Linked DNA regions of Homo sapiens: region 1 is linked to region 2. The links come from fine-mapping of genetic effects on plasma protein levels. A gene starts in region 2. The other region holds a variant in brackets. All regions are shown on one strand. Distances are from middle to middle. Region 1 overlaps IL5RA (interleukin 5 receptor subunit alpha). Region 2 holds the start of IL5RA (interleukin 5 receptor subunit alpha).

Evidence for each region. PIP is the posterior inclusion probability: the model's chance that the variant is causal. Protein levels are from the aptamer-based SomaScan assay of Sun 2018.
Region 1: its variant is fine-mapped to the plasma level of the IL5RA protein (Sun 2018, PIP 0.95).

Annotation. Positions count from the first base shown.
Region 1 is chr3:3,092,542-3,097,541 of GRCh38, forward strand. IL5RA (interleukin 5 receptor subunit alpha) reads right to left here. Exons shown (of 12, transcript NM_175726.4): 8 at 2,758-2,903. Among named protein-coding and RNA genes, the nearest start is that of IL5RA, 15 kb to the right of the region's middle. The variant T/A (reference allele first, on the strand shown) is at 3,088.
Region 2 is chr3:3,110,199-3,115,654 of GRCh38, forward strand. It overlaps IL5RA (interleukin 5 receptor subunit alpha), which reads right to left and starts at 176. Exons shown (of 12, transcript NM_175726.4): 1 at 1-176.

The sequences.
Region 1 (5,000 bases), 18 kb before region 2:
CACCCTTCAGTGGAACGCTATCTTGTAACCAAAATATACGAAATGATCAACGGTCAAGATCCAGGTGTTCCTATCCAGGCCCAGCTGATGTTTCCAGACTGAAAGACTGGAGTGGCCTATGCTAGAATGCATTATTCCCTCACCTTGTCTCTCCATAATCTATAGTCACATTACTAAATAATGTCACATGAACGCTAGATTGTCTAGTGTTGAAATGAAGCTATTTTCTCATGAATGAGCCCTTCTTCTTTTTCCTTCTACTGATCATGGTCGCCACCATCCAGCTAGTCCCCTGTACCAGAGATGTGCTCCTGACACCTGTATCTTGAATACCCCCGGAGGTGTTTCTCCCTTTTTTACTCCAGCCCTGTGACCATTGCCTATTTTAGCTCTTATTATCTTTTGCTTGGACCTTTGCAGTAGCCGCTAACTGATATCATATGTCCATGTCGCCCCTCCCCACTCACATCCAGTTTTCATGCTGCTACCAAAAATCTTCTTTTACTCTGCAAATGTAGACATATTTCTCTATTGTGTAAAACTCTTCAGTGGCATCCATTGCCCAGAGTCATGGTTTTTAAAAAAGAAGCCACTTCTTTATTTTTTAGCAAAATCTTATAGAGCCACTCTGGGAGAAATCACAATGTCAGATACAGAGTCATGATTTCAGCATTGGTCTTATGTCCAGGCATCCAGGCAGACTGAATTACTTGCCACTTGACTGAAAGAACCATACTCTCTCAAGCATAAAGTTACTCCTTTTCCTAGGCTGGTGCAAGTCAGGAACTATTTATTACTGGCTTGTGATGGGCTAAATACAGATAAAATTATGACTGCAATTTGGAAGTTTTGATAGCAATTTGACATTGCCATGATATCCAAACACATGATCAGTGAACTGACACTTTACATGTCTTTGGCTATATTTAATTTTTTCTAGCAGATCATTTTTATTGTATTTGACAAAAGCACCAATCTATGGTAGATTAGACATTATAAAAACACACGCACACACACGTGCACACACAGTCCTTCAGTGTAAGTATTTTGGGAAGCTCTGGCTAAGAAAGTCCTTCTCATGTTTTCTCACCAGACTAGTTTCTCTTCATCCTTACAGATTCCGTTCAATTCCTCTCTGCAGAGCAGGCTCTGTGCCCACACCCCCATCTCTAGCTGTACTGGCTTTTCCTGTGGGAGGGCAACCCCAAGGCTGGGCAAGTATGTCACAAGATTGGGTCACTCCATGGCAGAAACAGTCTTATTTCTCACAAAGAAGCCAATTTGTAAATATTTGTTGAATCTAATTGAATTGGCTTTGTCTACTCTCTGTAAGACATAAGTTGGAATCCTATTTTTTTTCCTAGCTTTGTGACTGTGGGAGAGTTACTTCATCTCTTTTGCCTCACTTTCCTATAAAATGGGAATGGTAATTACATCATAGAATTATGTGAGGATGGAATAAACACATAATAAAGCTTGACACATAATTGATGCTCAAGAAATGTTGATTGGCTTTCTTCTCAGTTCCTTTCCCCTTGAAATTTTTGTCTATTAGTGCTAATGAGTTTTTTTAATTGTAAAATACATATAATGAAATTTACCATCTTAATCCTTTTTAAGTGTACAGCTTTGTGATATTAAATAGTTTCACATTGTTGTGTCACCAATGTTCAACACTCTTTTAATCTTGCAAAACTGGAACTCTGTACCCATTAAACAATACCTCTCCTTCCACCCTCCTACCAATTCCTGGTAACCACCATCCTACCCTGTTTCTATGAGTTTGACTATTTAACCTCATAAAAGTAGAATCAGACAGTATTTGTCCTTTCGTGACTGACTTATTTTGCTTAGCATAATGTCCTCAAGGCTCCTCCATGTGGTAGCATGTGTCAGAATCTCCTTCCTTTTAATGCTGGATAATATCCTATTATATGTATATGCTGCATTTTGCTTATCCATTCATTTAATGGGCACTTGGGTTGCTTCCAGCTTTTGGCTATTGTGAATAATGCTGCTATGGACATGGGTGTACAAACATCTCTTTGAATCCTTGCTTTCGATTCTTTTGTATATGTAATCAGCAGTGGAATTGTTGGATCGTATGGGAATTCTATTTCTAATTTTTTGAGAATTCATCATATCGTTTTTATAGTAGCTGCATTATTTTAGTTTTTTGTTTTTTTGTTTTTGTTTTTTTAGATGAAATGTTGCTCTGTCACCCAGGCTGGAGTGCAGTGGCGCCATCTCAGCTTACTGCAACCTCCGCCTCCCTGGTTGAAGTGATTCTCCTGCCTCAGCCCCTGCCCCCGAGTAGCTGGGATTATAGTCACGCGCCATCACGTTGGCTGATTTTTGTATTTTTAGTAGAGATGGGGTTTCACCATGTTGGCCAGGCTGGTCTTGAACTCCTGGTCTCAGGTGATCCACCCACATTGGCCTCCCAAAGTGCTAGGATTACAGGCGTGAGTCACCCCACCCGTCTATCATTTTAGATTTTAACCAGCACTAGTACCAATGAGTCTGTATCTAATCCTTTGTATTAGTTTCAACCAAAAGTATGTTCTTTCAAAACAAAAGGCCAGTAAGATTTGGTTTATATCTATTTGGTTATATCTATAATACCTGGGTAGATTAAGTTAACTTTGACCTTGTTAGTACCAAGCTGTAACTTGGTTGCAGTCACTGAAGATAATTTTTTAAATGTTTCTAAAACAAATGTCTGTTATCAAATATTGGAATAATCTGAGTAATTACCTGCAAATATCCATTCCTTGTATTGTGTATTTTTACTTCATAATCAAAGCAATGGATTGGAAAAGCAGACACTGGTTTCTCCCATTGGATAGAGAGACGAGTTCCTTCAATCTCTGCTGTGACATTCAGTGGAGGATTTATTTGATCTAAGTTAGGGAACGAAAGATCAGTGATTTTTTTTTTAGAATCAGTGATCAAAGCTGATAATTCCAATCCACCCACACTTCTCAAGGCATTTCTAAGATACGCTTTTTTCAAATATTTACCATCAGGTCTTAATCAACTGATCTCCAAGCCACAGGAAGCCGGTGGCCTCCCATAATACTCTTG[T/A]CTTATAGTGCTGAAGAAGAAGAGACCCTTTCTGGAAACTACAAGGATTACTACTCCAAATAGAGTTGAATGCTTGAATTACTTCCCCCCCTCAGCTCATTGCAAGACTCACCCACCATCCCCCTTTACTACTCAAGTTGTACCAGGCCCAGAATAAACCTGACCACTGAGAGAACATTTCCCTGGACCTTCCACCAAGCCTTGCCTCTTCCCAGTAGGTATGTGGCCCTGAACAAATCACTTCCCCTTTCTGAGATTCAGTTTTTAATTTTAATTTCATTTTGTTTACTGCGTCTTTTGGTTTTTGTTTGTTTGGGGGCTGGAGCAGGAAGCTTCAGTTTTCTTTTGCATCAAAAAGAATGGATTGGGGCAGGGCGTGGGGGCTCACGCCTGTAATCCCAGCACTTTGGGAGGCCGAGGCGGGTGGATCACGAGGTCAGGAGATCGAAACCATCCTGGCTAACGTGGTGAAACCCCCTCTCTACTAAAAATACAAAAAATTAGCTGAGCGTGGTGGTGGGCGCCTGTAGTCCCAGCTACTCAGGAGGCTGAGGCAGGAGAATGGCGTGAACCCAGCAGGCGGAGCTTGCAGTGAGCCGAGATCGCGCCACTGCACTCCAACCTGGGTGACAGAGCAAGAAATCTGTCTCAAAAAAAAAAAAAGAAGAAGAAGAAGAAGAAGAGTGGATTGGGCTAAATTTGTCTTTACTTAGGACTCTAATGTCCTTTCCCTTGAGATCTCACTTGATTGTCTTATGGTCCGGTGAGGTGAGGGGAAATGAATTCTTAATGAGTGTCCTTGTCTTAGGTAATATGACTTAGATCTCACAATTAATAGGGAAAAGCTAGGAGTGGGATCCACTGGCTTCAGAGCCTCCTATACCCTATGAAGAAAATTCTTAACCAAGAAAGTACTTATTTATTTTAGTAATCCTAGGAATCAGCCTCAATAAAATGAAAATCATAAAAGAAAAATGAATTCCTGTGGTCTGTACTAGATCATATCCATTTTCATATTAATATCATTGTTTCCTAGGTCTTCCTCGGCATCTTTTATTGCCTATTTTCATGAAAGTGACATTTTTAGTTCACCTAAGAAATATATTACTGGAGAGAATTGCATAACCTCTTTAGTAAGGGCTATGATTCTTTACACAAAGTTATATTCCATTGGATATAGATATGTCACAGCCAAATCATACCTTCTAAATAATATTGTAGTGTATTTATTAAACCTTTATGCCAGGCACTGTTCTAAGTGCTTTATCATTAGTAACACAATTCTCACGAAGACTGCACAGGAAGTATTGATTCCTCTCCATTGTTTCAGATAAGAAGATTAGGCACAAAGGAATGATCAGCTTGTCCAAGGTCACTCAGCCAGTGGTGGAGCCAGGATCCAAATCCAGGCAGTCTGGCCCCACAGCCCATAATAACCACCCACCATTGAAATCTGGAATCTCCATAACTAAGAATGCCATGTGAGAGCGCCTGATGAGTTTCACTAATAGAACTATCTGGGATGAGGGAGAGTGTCTTCTCTATTGAGAACTGAGCAGACAAAACCACGAATAGAATTTTTAGAGCTGAGAATTGCACACTGAGAGATATTCGAGCTGCAGAACATCCAGGAGATGGGCCAGAACAGTGAGAAATTCAGAGAGAGAGAGATGTTAGCCTGGGAGAAGAAGGGCTTCTGGATGGGAAACGTGCTGCCTGTGAACAGCTAAGAGAGGCTATTCTATAGGGAAGGGACTCAAATCACCTGGGGTGGCACTAGTCCATCACAGGACCCAGGGGCAGAAATTTCACAAAACCTGTCAGAACTCATGAAGGATTAAATGGTCTCTTTTAAGCAGCTAAATTCACTTTTTCTGGTGCAGTGATTCTCAACTGGGGGAAATTTTACCCCT
Region 2 (5,456 bases):
AAACGAAAGAATCTCTCGTCCAGATAGCCATTATCTGATAACTGTCTTGTCTGCATTTTCACTCTCTTTCAGAGTTGGTTTGCTCTCTTCAGGAGTGGGAATTAACTTTTACTCATGGTGACAAGGTAAACAAGTTTTCCGTGGGTACTCTAAAGCGTTGCATTTCTGTTTTGTTTATGTGCCTTGTTTGGCTACAGTAGTTACTGTGCCTCTGTCTCCTAGGCAACACTGACACATGATTTGATAGGAAGTAAGGCCTGAGGAGTACCCTCTCCCCACTCACTAGGCAATAGCAGCAATTCTCTGCCCTTAGAGAACCGCCTTAGCTCTTCTCTGCTTTGTGAGCAGGTCTGGTACCCTCAAGTAAATATGTGTGGGGGATGCGTTTCTGGGTGTGATAAATTGCTGCTGTCTGTCACCTGAGATCATCCTACACAAATTGTAACAATGGCAGTGTTGGTCTGTGGGTGCACCCAAGACCACCTTCCTCACGTCACATCCATTTTACCACCCAGCTGTCTTCAGAATGCTTCAATTTCAGCAAACCTCCTTGGCTTTTCCTGTCCTTTGTTCCATTTCTGTTTGATTCCTTCTGGGGAATTTCGAGGTGGCTAGCTAGCAAAGCTGGCTTTAAAAAAGTAGCTTAGCGTGTGAATAGATAAGAGTAGTGCTTATTGTATGACCCACGGCAGAGAGTAGTAAGTAGTTGCCTTTGGAAGGAGACCTTCAGTCTAGCCTAAGCGATGAGTGATGCAGGATTCCCTGTCTCCTTAGGAGCTGACTGGGAGAGTCTCAGACAGAGCAGATGCAGAAAGATGGTGGCCCAGGTTGGATCAGTGGTTCTGTTTGTGAGATGAGAGACAGGCTTCCTGGAGGCAATTTCCAAAAGGCTCAGTGTAGAAGCTGTGCAAGTACAGTCAGCGTGTGTGCCTGGGGTTCCCAAGGTGACCATTTTAGCAGTTGCCAAAATGAAACCGGAGCAATTGTTATCAGGTTGAAAATTGTTGTCAGACCTGAAAAATGTGATTTTCCTCGGGGAAAGGGGAAGTAAAACAAGGAACAGAGAGAGATCCATTTATTTGCTAAGAGGCACCCAGAAAAGTTTAGATATAGTATCAACTATCTGGCCTACTCTTTTAAGTCCTGCCCATCTGTTTATACATGTAACATATTTGTCACTAATGAAACCTTAAAAATACTTATTAATCATTGGGAAGACAGTAATTTCTGGCTTAAAAGCCTGCTTTAATGGCCTCTCTCCGTATATATATATGTATATTTTTTGAGATGAAGTCTCACTCTGTCGCCCAGGCTGGAGTGCAGTGGCGCAATCTCTGCTCACTGCAACCTCTGCCTCCCAGGTTCAAGCGATTCTCTTGCCTCAGCCTCCCGAGTAGTTGGGATTACAGGCACCCGCCACCACGCCTGGCTAATTTTTTGTATTTTTGGTAGAGATGGGGTTTCACCATGTTGGCCAGGCTTGTCTCAAATTCCTGACCTCAAGTGATGCACCCGCCTTGGCCTCTTAAAGTTCTGGGATTACAGGTGTGAGCCACCACACTCAGCCAATGGTCTGTATATTTCTTACATTCATTTACTCAAATATTCATTGAATGCACCTATGCACTATGCTAGGCGCGGTGAAGGGTATAAAGAAAATTAGATCTGGCTGCTCCTTCCATACCACCTTCCTGGGTATATGATCTTTAATTAACTACGCCAATAAAAACAAACAAACAAACAAAGCAAACACATGCTCATACAGAAACACTGTCTCTATGTTTCTGTATAAGCACAAACGAAAAAATGAGAGGCAGGGACTTTTTTTTTTTCTGGCGGGGGGTTGCGGGGGGGTTGTTTGTTTGTTTTGAGATGGAATTTCAGTCTTGTTGCCTAGGCTGGAGTGCAATGGCGCGATCTCAGCTCACCACAACCTCCACCTCCCGGGTTCAACCGATTCTCCTGCCTCAGCCTCCTGAGTAGCTGGGATTACAGGCCCCCGCCACCACACCCAGCTAATTTTTTTGTATTTTTAGTAGAGATGGGGTTTCACCACGCTGGTCAGTCTGGTCTTGAACTCCTGACAGGTGATCCACCCACCTCGGCCTCCCAAAGTGCTGGGATTACAGACGTGAGCCACTGAGCGAGGCCTGTTTGGTTTTTTATGGCAATAATTTAATTCTTTATAATAAAGTGTAAACGTCCAAAGACAGTATGATAGAACATGCTGGAAGAATTCACAAAAGTCGTTTTTTTAAAAAGTGAAATTAAATGTGTCTGCATCCTTTAAGCAAAACAATGTGAGTTTAGCCAAATAGAAATATGAATAGTAATAAAACGAAAATCATGGTTCAGTGGCTCTACCATGAACTTTGGTTAAAGGAGCTTATTAAAGGTATCAACTTCTAGAACTTGATTCCATGGAAATAATGGAAAAATGTAGATCAAGATTTATACAAAAGAGAGCAAAATTCATTGTACCTTTACAATAGTAAAATAGTAAAAGTACTATAGGAATGGTGAAGAGAAATATGTAACTGCTCAAGGTTGAAATATGTGATGTGGATGTCAAAAGGAATGTTTATCAATAACTTTTTTTTTTCTTTTGAGACAGGGTGGTGCCCTGTCACCCAGGCTGGAGTGCAGTGGCAGGATCTCGGCTCACTGCAGTCTCTGCCTCCTGGGTTCAAGTGATTCTCGTGCCTTAGCCCCCGGAGTAGCTGGGATTGCAGGCATGTGCCACCATGCCAGATAATTTTTGTATTTTTAGTAGGGAGAGGGTTTCACCATGTTGGCCAGGGTGGTCTCAAACTCCTGGCTTGTGATCCTCCCACCTTGGCCTCCCAAAGTGCTGGGATTACAGGTATGAGCCAATCAAGAACTTTTAATAACATAGGGTATTATGAAAAAATGTTAAGTAAAAACAACAGGAGGGTATACACACATGTAATTTTTTTTTACAGTCTTATTTTTGGTCAGAAGATCAGACTAACAGGAATAGTTATCTCTAAGTGGTAGGTGTATTAGTCAGCTATTGCTACAGAACAAGCAACCACAGAACCCTCAGTGGTAAACTGTGATAGGCATGTATTTGTAGCCCATGTGTCTGAGTTTTGACTGGGGTCTGCTTAATCTTGGGCTGGGATCCAGATCACAAAGTGAGTTCAGATTTGTTCCAAGTATCTGCCATTCATTTGGAACCAGTGGCTACCCAGGGCATAATCTTTTTATGGTGACAGCAAAAGTGCAAGAGAGCAGGACCAACTGCACAAGCACGCATCAAGCATCTGCTCATGTCACATTCCCTGACATCTCAAGAGGCTGAGCAAATTGCATGGCCAAGCCCGGAGTCAAATGGACGAAGCCCAAAGTACATTCCACCATGATAAGGCCATGATAAGGATGTGGACATGGACAACTCCTAGTGGGGAGTGAAGAAATGGGACCAACAGTTCATTCTACCACGGCAGGGTTAGTGTTTCTCTTACTTTTATTCTGTGTTTCTATATTTACAAACGTTTTATTCTGTACAAATGCAGGCAGAAAAAGTTATTTTAAAAAATATTAGAGACATACAGATCAATTTAATAGAATTGAGAGTCAAAAATAAACTCTCGCATTTAGGGTCAATTGATTTTTGACAAGAGTGTCAAGACAATTCAGCGGGGAAAAGATCAGCCTTTCAATAAGTGGTGCATATCCACATGCAAAAGAATGCCTCGCAGCATAGACAAAAATGAATTCCAATGGGATCAAAGACCTAAAAGTAAGAGGCAAAACTATAAAATTCTTAGAAGAAAACATAGGCATAAATCTTCATGACCTTCATTTTGTTTCTTTCTTTTTTTTTTTTTTTTTTTTTGAGACAGAATCTTACTCTGTCGCCTAGGCTGGAGTGCAGTGGTATGATCTCAGCTCACTGCCAACTCCCCTGCCTCCTGGATTCATGCGATTCTCCTGCCTCAGCCTCCCGAGAAGTTGGGATTACAGGCGTGTGCCACCACACCCGGCTAAGTTTTATATTTTTACTAGAGATGGGGTTTTGCCATGTTGGCCAGGCTGGTCTCGAACTCCTGATCTCAGGTGATCCACCCACCTTGGCCTCCCAAAGAGCTGGGATTACAGGCATGAGCCGCCGCACCTACCCAATGGTTTCTTCAATAAGATACAAAAGCAGACACAACAAAAGAAAAAAATAGATAAACTGGATTTCACCAAAATTAAAAGCTTTTGTGCTTCAAAGGATACCATGAAGAAAGTGAAAAAAGACCGGATGCAGTGGCTCACGTCTCTAATCCCAGCACTTTGGGAAGCCAAGGTAGGCAGATCACCTGAGGTCAGGAGTTTAAGACCAGCCTGACCAGCATGGTGAAACCCTGTCTCTACTAAAAAACACAAAAATTAGCCAGGTGTGGTGGCAGGTGCCTGTAATCCCAGCTACTCAAAGGCTGAGACAGGAGAATGGCTTGAACTCGGGAGGCGAAGGTTGCAGTGAGCTGAGATCGTGCCACTGCACTCCAGCCTGGTCAACAGAGCAAGACTCTGTCTGAAATAAAATAAAATAAAATACAAGGAAGTGAAAAGACAAGCCACAGCATGGGAAAAATATTTGCAAAGACATATCTGACAAGGAACTTTTATTTAGAATATGTCAAAAACTCTTAAAACCAAACAATAAAAAGAAAAATAACCCACTTTAGCCTGTAATACCAGCACTTTGGGAGGTTGAGGTGGGAGGATAGCTTGAGCCCAGGAGTTTGAGGCTCTGGTGAGTCGTGTTCGTGCCACTGTACTCCAGTCTGGGTGACAGAGCAAGACCTTTCTCAAAAAACGAAAGAAAGATAGAAAGAAAAAAGTAAAATAACCCAGTTTAAGCATGGGATAAAGAATTTGAACAGACATATCTCCAGAGAAGATGTACCAACAGCAAAGGTGCCTAGGAACATCTGCTCCATATCATTAGCTATTGGAAATGCAAATGAAAACCACACTGAGATACCTCTTCACACCCACTCCAATGGCTGAAATGAAAAGGACAATAACAACTGTTGATGAAGATGTGGAAACACTGGAACCCTCACATACTGTTGCTGGGGAGGTAAAGTGAGGTGGCCAATTTGGAAAACAGCCTGGCAGTTCGTCAAAAGGTTAAATGTGGAGTTCCCATACGACTGAGTAATTGCATTCCTAGGCAAATACCCACCCAAGAGAGTTAAAATCATGTGTCTACATAAAAATTTATATGTGAATATTCACAGAAGAATTAGTTATAATGGCCAAAGAGTGAAAACAGCCCAAATGTCCAGCAACTGATGAATGGATAAAGAATATGTGGTATATCCATGCCGTGAAATATTATTCAGCCATCAAAAGAAGCACTGATACTACAACATGGATGAACCTTGAACACATGAAGCTAAGTAAAAGAAGTCAGTCACAAAAGATCACACACTGCA